2 separate regions of the Homo sapiens genome follow, and region 1 is linked to region 2. Evidence: fine-mapped expression QTL. A gene starts in region 2. The other region holds a variant in brackets. All regions are shown on one strand. Distances are from middle to middle.

Region 1 (5,386 bases), 47 kb before region 2:
GAGTATTTGACCAGTTGTGTCAAACGCTGATGGCAGGTCAGTAGGATGAGGACTAGATTTAGCAATGTGAAGGTCATTGGTGACTTGAACAAGCAGCTTCGCTGGAGCAGAGAATTGTGATCCTGAGCGGACGGGATATATAGTTGTCTTTTTTATAGGACTTTAATTTGTTTAGATAGTTTCAATTTTTTGCCATTTTATGATGCCATACTATGATGCTTGTGAACATCTTTAGGTACATAGTGTTTCTTAATATTATTTCCCAAGGATACTTATCAGAATAACATTTCACTATAATGCCACTAATATTTGGTTCTCAGTCTGTCCTTTGAAGACACTTTGAAATAACATAGCTTTTTTTTTTTTTTTTTTTAAATTGAGACTGAGTCTCACTCTGTTGCCCAGGCTGGAGTGCAGTGGCGCGATCTTGGCTCACTGCAGCCTCTGCCTCCCAGGTTCAAGTGACTCTTGTGCCTCAGCCTCCCGAGTAGCTGGGACTACAGGCGTGCACCACCACGCCCGGCTAATTTTTGTATTTTTAGTAGAGACGAGGTTTCGCCTTGTTGGCCAGGCTGGTCTCAAACTCCTGATCTCAGGTGATCCACTGGCCTTGGCCTCCCAAAGTGCTGGGATTACAGGCGTGAGCCACTGTGCCTGGCCACATTTTTGTTGTAAATAAATATCCCAGAGGAAAATGGAGACTAGCTGCTATTGTTTTAAGTTACAAGCTAATTGAGCCATGAAAACTCATTGCCAATTCAGTACCAAGAGGTGCAGAAGATAATTGCCTCGGTGCATATTGATTTTTTCCTATCCAGGGTGGTTATGCTGTGAGGTAATTGACAACACCGGGTTTTAAAAAGGATATACTAGTCCCAGTGTAAAATATTTTTCCTCCTGCTAACTGCTCTGCCTGTCCTCAAATGTGCTACTTTTTTTTTTTTAAAGGAAGTGACAATTAATGACTTGTCACTTGTTCAGCCAACATTGATAGCCAGTTTAGTCTTGTCTCATCCAATATTCCTTATTACTTTGGCATTTTAATTTGTACAAAGCCGTTTTCAGTTATCTTCTTTTCTTATCCTGTTACATTTGCTTTTACACGGTTGGGTCTCCTGAGTTTGCATCCCAAGCAAGTTAAAATTCCAGGCAGGTTATTTTTTCAGATTTAAACAGAGAAGGCAGAGGCCTCCTTTCTCCCTCCCTATGTTTTCATCGCCTGCCTGACTCATCTCTGGTCTCTTTCTCCGCCTATCTGCCTGTGTTATGTTTTCTTCCCCTGAGATCTGTTGCTGAAAGGCTGACTGCAGGAGCAGTGCTCAGCTCTGAGGGGGCATACCTATTGCCCCAGGGGTACTATTTGTACATGTCGGGGTTGTTGGCCCAGTAGTGATGCTGGCGGGGATGGGGAGGAGGCAGGACCCTGTAGGCTGTGGGGAATAGGGCAGGGTGAGTGCCACAGGGCTAGGGAGCATCTTGCCCTGCTTCCTGCCGCACCCTGCAGGATGGCAAGGCCACTTTCAGTTGGCAGAACTCTGTTGTCCTATAGGACAGATGCTAGCCACATGTGGCCATTTTTGTTTAATTAATTAAAAGTAAAGAAAATTAAAAATTCAGCTCCTCAGTCACACTAGCTGTATTCCAAGCGCTCAGTAGCCACATGTGACTAGCAGCTACTCTATTGGACAGTGCGGGTGCGGAGCGTTTCCATCAGGCACAGGGTTCTGCTGGACGGCGCTGTCCTCCAGGGCTTGGCTGCTTCCTGGGTGATTGAAGAAGCCAACATTGAGGGGCCTTGGAGACTGGCAGTGGCAGGTGACCTGGGCAAGCAGGCTGCAGCCTCGGGCTAGCCTGGAGGGAATGGCAGTGCCAGGCAGGGAGACTGAGGCAGTGAGGAGAAAGAGGGACTGTGACTTGGAGGTCCTGACCAGGCTCAGGCTCACTGGAGCTCATTGGATACTTCAATGCAACAGGACTGTGTCTAGACCATGGCAGGTGTGGCTGGCGGTGCTGAACTCCTGCAGGCCAGAGGGGTGAGCCTGCTGGAAGGGGCTCCAGCTGGGGTGCAGGAAGAGCATTCCCAGCACGGCACTGCCCGGGCCCTCCGAGCTGTTCCTGAGAGCTGTATGAATGGAGTTCCCGGGCTGGGCAGTAGGGGAACTGCCAGAGTGAAGGGACCAGGGCACAAAAGCTTTTCA[T/G]TCATGAATCTCTTTCATTTACAACAAACCACGGGTAGCCTCTCCCCAGGGATCTAGATGGTTCCAGGAACAAAGGAACACACAGAAAAGAGAGTCCTTTTATTTTTTTAAAGCTGAAAGAGGCTCTGTCCAGTGGAAGAACTGCGGCCACTTCTCAGTGGGACTTCTGACTGGAACAGTCTTAGGCGCCTGAGCGACTCTGAGGAAGGAATCCGTGGTGGTCACCCCTGGGGAAGCCAGGCCACCTTCTCAGAGCACTTCAAGCCAGGCATGTCTTGCTGGTAATAGCAATGACATTGAGTATGACTGTAATAATAATAACTGCTAATACAGAAGGCTTACTGAGACCCAGGCATTGTTCTAAGTGCTTTATATGAATTCACTTAAGAGAACATTTATGAGAACGGTAGCCAGCTTTATCACTGGAGGGTTCTCAGTGGCCCTCCATAGCATTTAACGTCAACAACCATTGTAGTAACAGCTGCTGTTTTATGGTTTAAAGAGAATTTTTATGTACATTGTCCTTTTAAAAAAAAAACCCAGCTTTGTTGAGGTACAGTTTATACCATCACATTCATCCATTGCAAATGCACAATTCTGTGGTTTTAGTAAATTTATAGGTTTATGTAACCACGACCACAATTCGGTGTTAGAACCTTTCCATTCCTCCAAATGTTTCCTCTGCTTGTTTGAAGTTAATCTCTGCTCCTACCCTAGCCATGGGCAATCACTGATCTGCTTTTTGGTTCTCTAAATTTGCCCTTTCTGGTAATTTCATGTAAATTGAATCATATAATATGTAATCTTTTCCACCTGGGTTCTTTACTTAGCATAATGTTGTTCTTGAGGTTCATCCATGTTGTAGCATGTATCAGTCATTTATTCCTTTCAATTTGTTACACAGTGTTCCATTGTGTGGCTGTCCCACGTTTTGTTCGTGTGTTTGTTAGTTGATGGACGTTTGGACCGGTTTCACTTTGGAGCTATTATGAATAATGCTGTCGTGAGCATTATCTTTGTGTGAACATATATTTTCATTCTTATTGGGTAAATTCCTAGGAGTAGAATTGCTGGGTCATATGGGAAATTTATGTTTAACTTTGTAGGAAACTGCCTGTTTTCTCAAGTGCTTGTACTCATTTATATTCCCTTCTGGGAGGCATGAGGGCTCCAGTTTTTCCACAACTTCTCTAACATTTGCTATTGTCAGTCTTCTTACTACAGCCATTCTGGGAGTGTATAAAGGTATCTCATTTAATTTGCATTTTCTTAAAGACTAGTCAGGTGAAGCATCTTTTCATGTTCTTGTTAGCCCTTTGCATATCTTTGGTGAAATATCTGAATAGATATATAATTGAGTTGTTTATATATATATAATATATATATTAATTGGGGTGTTCGTCTTCTTATTACTGAGTTGCAAGCATTCCTTATATAACCTGGATGCAAGTTCTTTATAAGATATACGATTTACAAATATTTTTCTCCCAGTCTGTGGCTTATTTTCATTTTAATATTGATTTATTTTTTATGCACAAAATTTTTAATGTTGAAGTTCAGTTTATCAATTTTTTTATTGTATGGATAGGGCTTTTTGTGTCATTATCTAAGAATTCTTTGCCTAACCCAAGGTCAGGAATATTTTCTCCTGCAACATTTGTTTTCTAGAAGTTTTATAGTTTTAGCTATTACATTTAGATCTATGATCCATTTTGAGTTAATTTTTATGTATGATGTGAGATAAAGGTCCAAATTCTTTTCTTTTATTAATTTTTTTGCATTTGTATATCTAATTGACTGTCCTTTACCCGTTGAATTACAATAGTGATAAGTAATAATAATTACCTTCACATTTTTGTTGAAAATATATTGACTATAAATGTGAGGATTTATTTCTGAATTCCCAATTTTATTGCATTGATCTATAAGCCTTTCCTGTGCCAGTATCACACCGTCTGGATTTCTGTGGCTTTGTAGTTATTTTTAAGATCAAGTAGTGTGAATTTTCCAACTTTGTTATTATACAAAATTGTTTTGGCTTTTTTAAGTTTTTGCATTTCCATATACATTTTAGGATCAATTCATCAATTTCTACCAAAAAGTCTGCTGGGATTTTGATAGTAATTTACATATCAGTCTGGGAGGAATTCCCATCTTGACGGTGTTGAGGCTTCCAATGCATGAACATGAAATGTCTCTCCACCTATTTAGATCTTCTTTAGTTTTCTCAGCAGTGTTTTGCAGTTTTTAGTATGCGAGTCTTGTACTCCTTTTATTAAGTTTATTCCTAAGTATTTTATTATTTTAGGAATGGCTTTTTTTTTTTTTTTAGACGGAGTCTCGCTCTGTGGCACAGGCTGGAGTGCAGTGGTGTGACCTCCGCCCACTGCATCCTCCACCTCCCGGGTTCAAGCGATTCTCTTGCCTCAGCCTCCCAAGTAGCTGGGATTACAGGCGCACACCACCACTCCTGGCTAACTTTTTTGTATTTTTAGTAGAGACAGGGTTTCACCACGTTGGCCAGGCTGATCTTGAACTTCTGACTTTAGGTGATCTGCCCACCTTGGCCTCCTAAAGTGCTAGGATTACAGGTGTGAGCCATCGTGCCTGGCCAGGAATGGATTTTTTTGAATTTCTTTTTTTGATTGTTTTGTTGCTAGTATATAGAAGTGTGATTGATTTTATATCCTGAAACCTTGTTAAACTCCTTTTTCTGTGTGGATTCCTTGAGATTTTTAACATACAGGATTATGTCATCTGTAAATAAAGACAGTTTCCTTCTTCCTTTCCAATCTGATGCTTTTAATTAATCAATTGCTTAGTTAATTCATTTTATTTTTTGCCTTATTCCACTAGCTAGAACTTCTAGGACAGTGTAGAATAGAAATGGCAATAGCAGACGTCCTTGCCTTGTTCCCAACCTTAGGAGGAAAGGATTCAGTCTCTCACAATTTACATATGACAATTGTCTGTGGGTATTACATTAATTTCAGATGTTATACCAGCCATGCATTCCTGGGATAAATCTTCACTTAGCTATTCTATGTAATTCTTTTTGTATTGATAGATAGAGTTTAGGAATTACAGTTTTCTTGTGCTCTCTTTTGTCTCATAGAATGAGTTGGGAAGTGTTCCTTTTCTGAAAGATTTTTTTGAAGAATTGATAAATTGTTTAATTTTTTTTTTTT
Region 2 (5,386 bases):
GGAAAGCTTCTCTGCAGGCTGCGTCATCCCACTCCAAGGACTGGTGCTGGGCTCCCAGGGGAGTGTTGGGGAGGGAGTGAGCGCCAGCACAGAGGGAAGAAGGGAGGGTGTGGACTGACTACCTCTACCACTCAGTTGCTGTGTGACCTTGGGCAAGTCTCTTGACGTCTCTGAGCCTTAGTCTCTTTAGCTCATGAGAAATGGAGATTATAACACTATATGTGGCAGAGTTGAGGGAGATTGAATCAGATAATGTATTTATGGTGCCTAGCACGAGCAGCACTCCTGGGTGGTGGTGGCAGCGTTATCCACAGTCCCAGCTTGGCCACTGATAAGTTCTGTGAACCTAGGGAAGTCACTTAACCTCAGCCTCAGTTTCCTTATATGTACGGTTGGGGCTGCTGACAACTTAGCAAAATTATTGCTCATCTTTTGGCTTCTCAGCATCTTAACCCCTTTCCTAGAATTTGGGAATTCTCTGCCATAGAAGCCTGCCTCCTATTATGGAAGACAAAAACGCTGGATATGTTATCTCCCGGCTTCCTCGCAGCTAGCTAGGGTGTTGGTACTGTGTTTCCCTCCTTCCCGCTTCTGCGGAAATTACCATCATACATTTATTAATAGTGTCTTATCTATACAGACCAGTTTTTATGGCTTTACCCTAAACATTGTAAGGTATTTGCAAAACAGAAACAGACAGTATTACAAAGAGAAAATAACTAGTCCGCAATAGTGAAGAACATTTTAATATCCCAGAGAATATTGGAAACCAGGGGATCAAAGATGGGGGGAGGGACGAATGTAGATTGCAGTATAGTTGCAGCAGAGGAGGAAGGGACGAGGACAGGGGGAGAGACCGAGGACTGTGCCCGAGGCAGCCCCCACTCCCTGTTTCACTGAGCCTGGCTTCCACTTTCCCCCGTGCGTGGGGTGTTTGGTCCCTGCTACGCTGCACAGAGGGTGAACATCTGGCCCTTTGCTTGCTTCCAGGTTCCAGCCATGGCTCTAGCCCTGATCTCCAATATGGTTTCTGTTCTGTTCCTGGCCCATGGAGATGTTTATCTCATTTTCAAGCCGACTATGCCCTTTCCTCCTGTTGCCCCCCCATCGGATGAAAACAATTGTTATCTAAAACTCATCATTAAAAAGTGATACATTTTTGTTTTGAATAGCATATGGAGGTTATTATTTTTCCAGAAATTTTCTATATTTTTATCAGGGGGTGTGTGTGTGTATATGTAAATAAACTCTCTATACCTTTGTACATCTTTTTTTGTTCACTTAACAGTGTATCTTGACCATCCTTATACCTAAGTCAGCCTTCTTTGATAAATGTTGCTGGTCTCTTGGTATGATTTTTCTTTTTACTATGAAAACCTTTCAACATATACAAAAGTAGAAAGCATCATGTAATATTTCTGGATGCCCCAATATTATAATATCCATGCAGCCTCAATAACTATCAGCCCTTAGCCAATCTTTGTTTTATGTCTCCTCCCACCCACTTTTCCTCTTCCCCTGATTATTTTGAAACGAATCTCAGTCGTCACAGCATTTCGTCTGTAAATGTCATTTTCAGTCTATTAGTTTCTTAAAAACACATCTGCTGTGGCCGAGTTTAGAGCTGAGGAGAGTTATATGAGCTCATAGTGTCACTCTGTCTTCAAGTTCCTCAGTCTGAAATCAGTTGGTACAAGGGAAGAAAATAGAGAGAGGCAGCACTAACCTCTAGCCAAGCACACTTTCCATCTCTCTGCAGATTGCCTCATGTCAGGATGTTAGCGTGACCGTCACGTCTGGAAGGCTTTATGGCTGATATAAATTCAGGTCCGTTGTTCACTAGGCATGAAGCCCTCCGTTGTAAGGGAACCAGCCATCACCCTCATTACGAGATGCATAAATGTAGGACTTGAAGATAAAAGCTATTGGGTTCTTTTCGTCTCTCTGACACCTGAAGATGAATTTCTTGAACCTTGTTCTCGTGTTTAAAAAAAAAAAATTAACCAAGATTGAGCCTGTCAGTTTCTATCAGAGTTAAATCTGAGTAAAGGAGAAAAAAGCTTGCCACCTTTTAAAATAGTGATTCCTTCACTCCCTGGGAGTTAGAAAACTGGGCTAAGTGTTTTTGTGTAGCCCGTGTGACCTGGAGGCCGTGCTATAACCCCTGCAGGAATTACTCATAAAAAGGGAGGGATGTACCTGCCCTGTGGTAGAGATCAGAAGTCTACTCTGAGGTTGTTATTTTTAAATAACATCAGTGGAAAAGGTATTTTAAAAGGAAAACTCTGTACAGAGAACCCAAGCGGGATTGTGTTGCTGTCATTGTGACCGTCTCTTACCTGATGGCTCTGCCTCCCGGGCAGGCTAGGAGCTCCGGGATGACGTCCCAAGACTCGGGCGCATAGCGGGGGCTGCTGAAGATCGGAGTGTGAGGCTGAGAGATGAGGTCCAGGTGGAGCACGTGAAAAGCTTCCTGTGTCTGAAAACACGACTCCTTCCAGTTCTTTTGTCTGTCTGCACATTATGAGTATTTTGGTACTACTGAATCCGTTTTTAAAAGTTCACCACGTCGTGCCTGACACAGGTGTCTCCTGAAAGAATGAGTGAGGAAGTGAATGCGTGGAAGGGGTGGGACTGGGAGGCAGCCCTTCTGTTCTGTTTATGCCGTGCAGACCAATGCCAGGCACTTCGATGTTTGTTGAGTGAATGCAGGAACAGATGTGTAGTCAGAGGGCGTTTCCTCCGCGGTGCTGGCCAGCTGCTAAGTCAGGCTCTGTAGTCCCATTACTGGTCTTAGAGAAGTTACTTTCACATTCAGTTTTTGTTTGTAAAGACAGTCCATGGGAAAGTTTGTTATTCTCAGTTTGTTTGTTTGAGACATAGTTTCTTTCTTGTCGCCCAGGCTGGAGTGCAGTGGTGTGATCTTGGCTCACTGCAACCTCCGCCTCCCGGGTTCAAGCGATTCTCCTGCCTCAGCCTCCCAAGTAGCTGAGATTACAGGCGCTGACCACCATGCCTGGCTAATTTTTGTATTTTTAGTAGAGACAGGGTTTCATCATGTTGGCCAGGCTGGTCTCGAACTCCTGACCTCAGGTGATCCACCTGCCTGGGCTTCCCAAAGTGCTGGGATTACAGGTGTGAGTCACCATGCCCAGCCTATTCTCAGTTTTTTATTTGGCTCATTGTGTGTGTGAGCCATAGGATTGGTCCCATGAGGAATTACGAAGTAGAAGACATGCCTCTTGCTTTCAAGGAAGATATAACGTGAGGGAGATAGGGTAGATAAAACTTAATGAAAACGCAAATGCCTGCGGTGTCAACACTGAGTCAGTACTGCTGTTTAGAGATATCCCATGGACAAGATACATAGACTTTTTGCTGTAGGAACTGTAAATTTTACTGAGTGGCTCACCTCTCCCTCAGCTTAATATTCTGCCTTCAGCTGGGCATGGTAGCCTGCACCTGTAGTTCCAGCTACTTGGAAGGCTGAGGCAGGGGGGTCACTTAAGCCCAGGAATTCTGTGGGTGTCTGCACTAAGTTTGGCATCAACTTGGTGACCTCCTGGGAACGGGGGACCACCAAGTTGCCTAGGAAGGGATGAAGCAGCCCAGGCTGGAAATGAAGCAGGTTAAAACTCCTGTGCTGATTAGTAATGGGATTACGCCTGTGACTAGCCATGCACTCCAGCCTGGGCAACATAGCGAGACCCTGTCTCTAAAAAAAGAAACCAAACAAACAAAAATGGAGTTCTGCCTTCAAAATGCTAAGAAGTGGGTATCACATTCCCTTCTTTCCTCTGAAAAGTCTCTCGGAGTGGTGTTTGGCTTTGCAATGCAGGCGTAGCCTCTAAGAGTGCTCTTGGGATAGACCAAACTCTGTGCCCGAATAGAAAGCTCACTGGGCAGGCATTTGCCGAGGGTTTGGCTATGCAGTAGAGAGAAACCAGACCCTGTCCTCCAGGAGCTTGCAGTGGGACGTGGGTCTGGACAGGGCTACAGTGGAGGCACAGCGGCGGATGATGGGCCCGCAGGACTGTGTGCTTTGTTGCATTGCTGCAATCTGTTTCCTATGCCAAATAAACATCATCGCATTGAAAGAACCTTATTTGTAATCCAGGCAGCAGAAAGGCTTATCTGTAAGCATCTTCCTGGGGAAAAAAAGCAAAATAGCACAGTTGAATCCCAGTGGCATGTGTACAAGAGGGACCTTCTGTAACAAACCACGTGTGGAAAGGACTGAGCTGAGCGTGACCAGCCCCACATGAAGGGAATTTCTATATGGCTCCATGGCCATCTCAGGTGCAGACTTCAGCCACAGGACTGCATTTCTTCTGTGGGTTCCTAAGTGAAACGGATCTGAAGTTCCCATCCCTCTGCTTCCAGGGTAGCAGCAGAATTGGCTCTTATAGAAATATCAAACTTTTAATCTGAGCCTGGGGTTGAATTGAACATCTGTCTCCTCCTCCTGCCTTAGGTGACTTCTTTAAATGAGCTGCTTACTGTTGATCATAGAGAACCCCTGTGATCTTCTATTTCATGGTAGCAGAATTGACTCCAGCATCAAGGAGCTGCCCAAAGGAGTGTTTTGATCCAGGAACCCAGCCGTCTGCCTTTTGGGGACTGCTCTATCACTGTTTGTAAAAGAGGAAGCTGAGCCAGAATTGGCGTAGTATGTCGTGATTTGCCTGGATGTCTGCGGTGTCCTTGCGTCTGTAGACGAGCGCTCATTATGAGGCTGGTGGATTCTATGGACTTTCAGAAATGTGAAGTCACAGAGATGCTCGCAGGGCCCCATCAGTGCCGGTCACCGTGGAGTGAGGTGCCCGTTCATGTGACTTCACAGAGATGCTCGCAGGGCCCCATCAATGCCGGTCACCGTGGAGTGAGGTGCCCGTTCATGTGGCTTCACAGAGATGCTCGCAGGGCCCCATCAGTGCCGGTCACCGTGGAGTGAGGTGCCCATTCATGTGGCTTCACAGAGATGCTCGCAGGGCCCCATCAGTGCCAGTCACCGTGGAGTGAGGTGCCCGTTCATGTGACTTCACAGAGATGCTCGCAGGGCCCCATCAGTGCCAGTCACCGTGGAGTGATGTGCCCGTTCATGTGGCTTCACAGAGATGCTCGCAGGGCCCCATCAATGCTGGTAACCGTGGAGTGAGGTGCCCATTCACGTGGCTTCCACTTGATCTTCCTTGGCTCTGTTAAAAAAACAAACACAAACAAGCCCGCTGCTTCTCTCAATAAAATCAAGCCCAGTCTCTGCATGGAAATCCTTTCCTTTGCTGCTAGGACCATCCTATGTTGACCGGCCCAAGGATCACGAACTTGGAACTCTAAAGAAAGCAGGATAATTCTAGCTCTTCACTTGGGTAGCAGTGAACAGGAC

Evidence for each region. PIP is the estimated chance that this variant, and not a neighbour inherited with it, causes the effect. A credible set is the group of variants that fine-mapping cannot tell apart.
Region 1: its variant is the best candidate, but not a certain one, in a credible set for the expression of XXYLT1-AS2 in prefrontal cortex (BrainSeq, PIP 0.64).

What each region holds. Positions count from the first base shown.
Region 1 is chr3:195,192,429-195,197,814 of GRCh38, reverse strand. All of the region lies in intron 2 of XXYLT1 (xyloside xylosyltransferase 1), which reads left to right. Among named protein-coding and RNA genes, the nearest start is that of XXYLT1-AS2, 47 kb to the right of the region's middle. The variant T/G (reference allele first, on the strand shown) is at 2,199.
Region 2 is chr3:195,145,059-195,150,444 of GRCh38, reverse strand. It overlaps XXYLT1-AS2 (XXYLT1 antisense RNA 2), which reads right to left and starts at 2,574. Exons shown (of 2, transcript NR_102711.1): 1 at 2,340-2,574. The region is part of intron 3 of XXYLT1 (xyloside xylosyltransferase 1); the gene reads left to right. LOC105374296 (a long non-coding RNA gene) reads left to right here. Exons shown (of 2, transcript XR_001741088.2): 2 at 1-1,174. It also overlaps the pseudogene RN7SL36P. RefSeq lists enhancers at 19-228, 2,457-2,506, 2,747-2,856.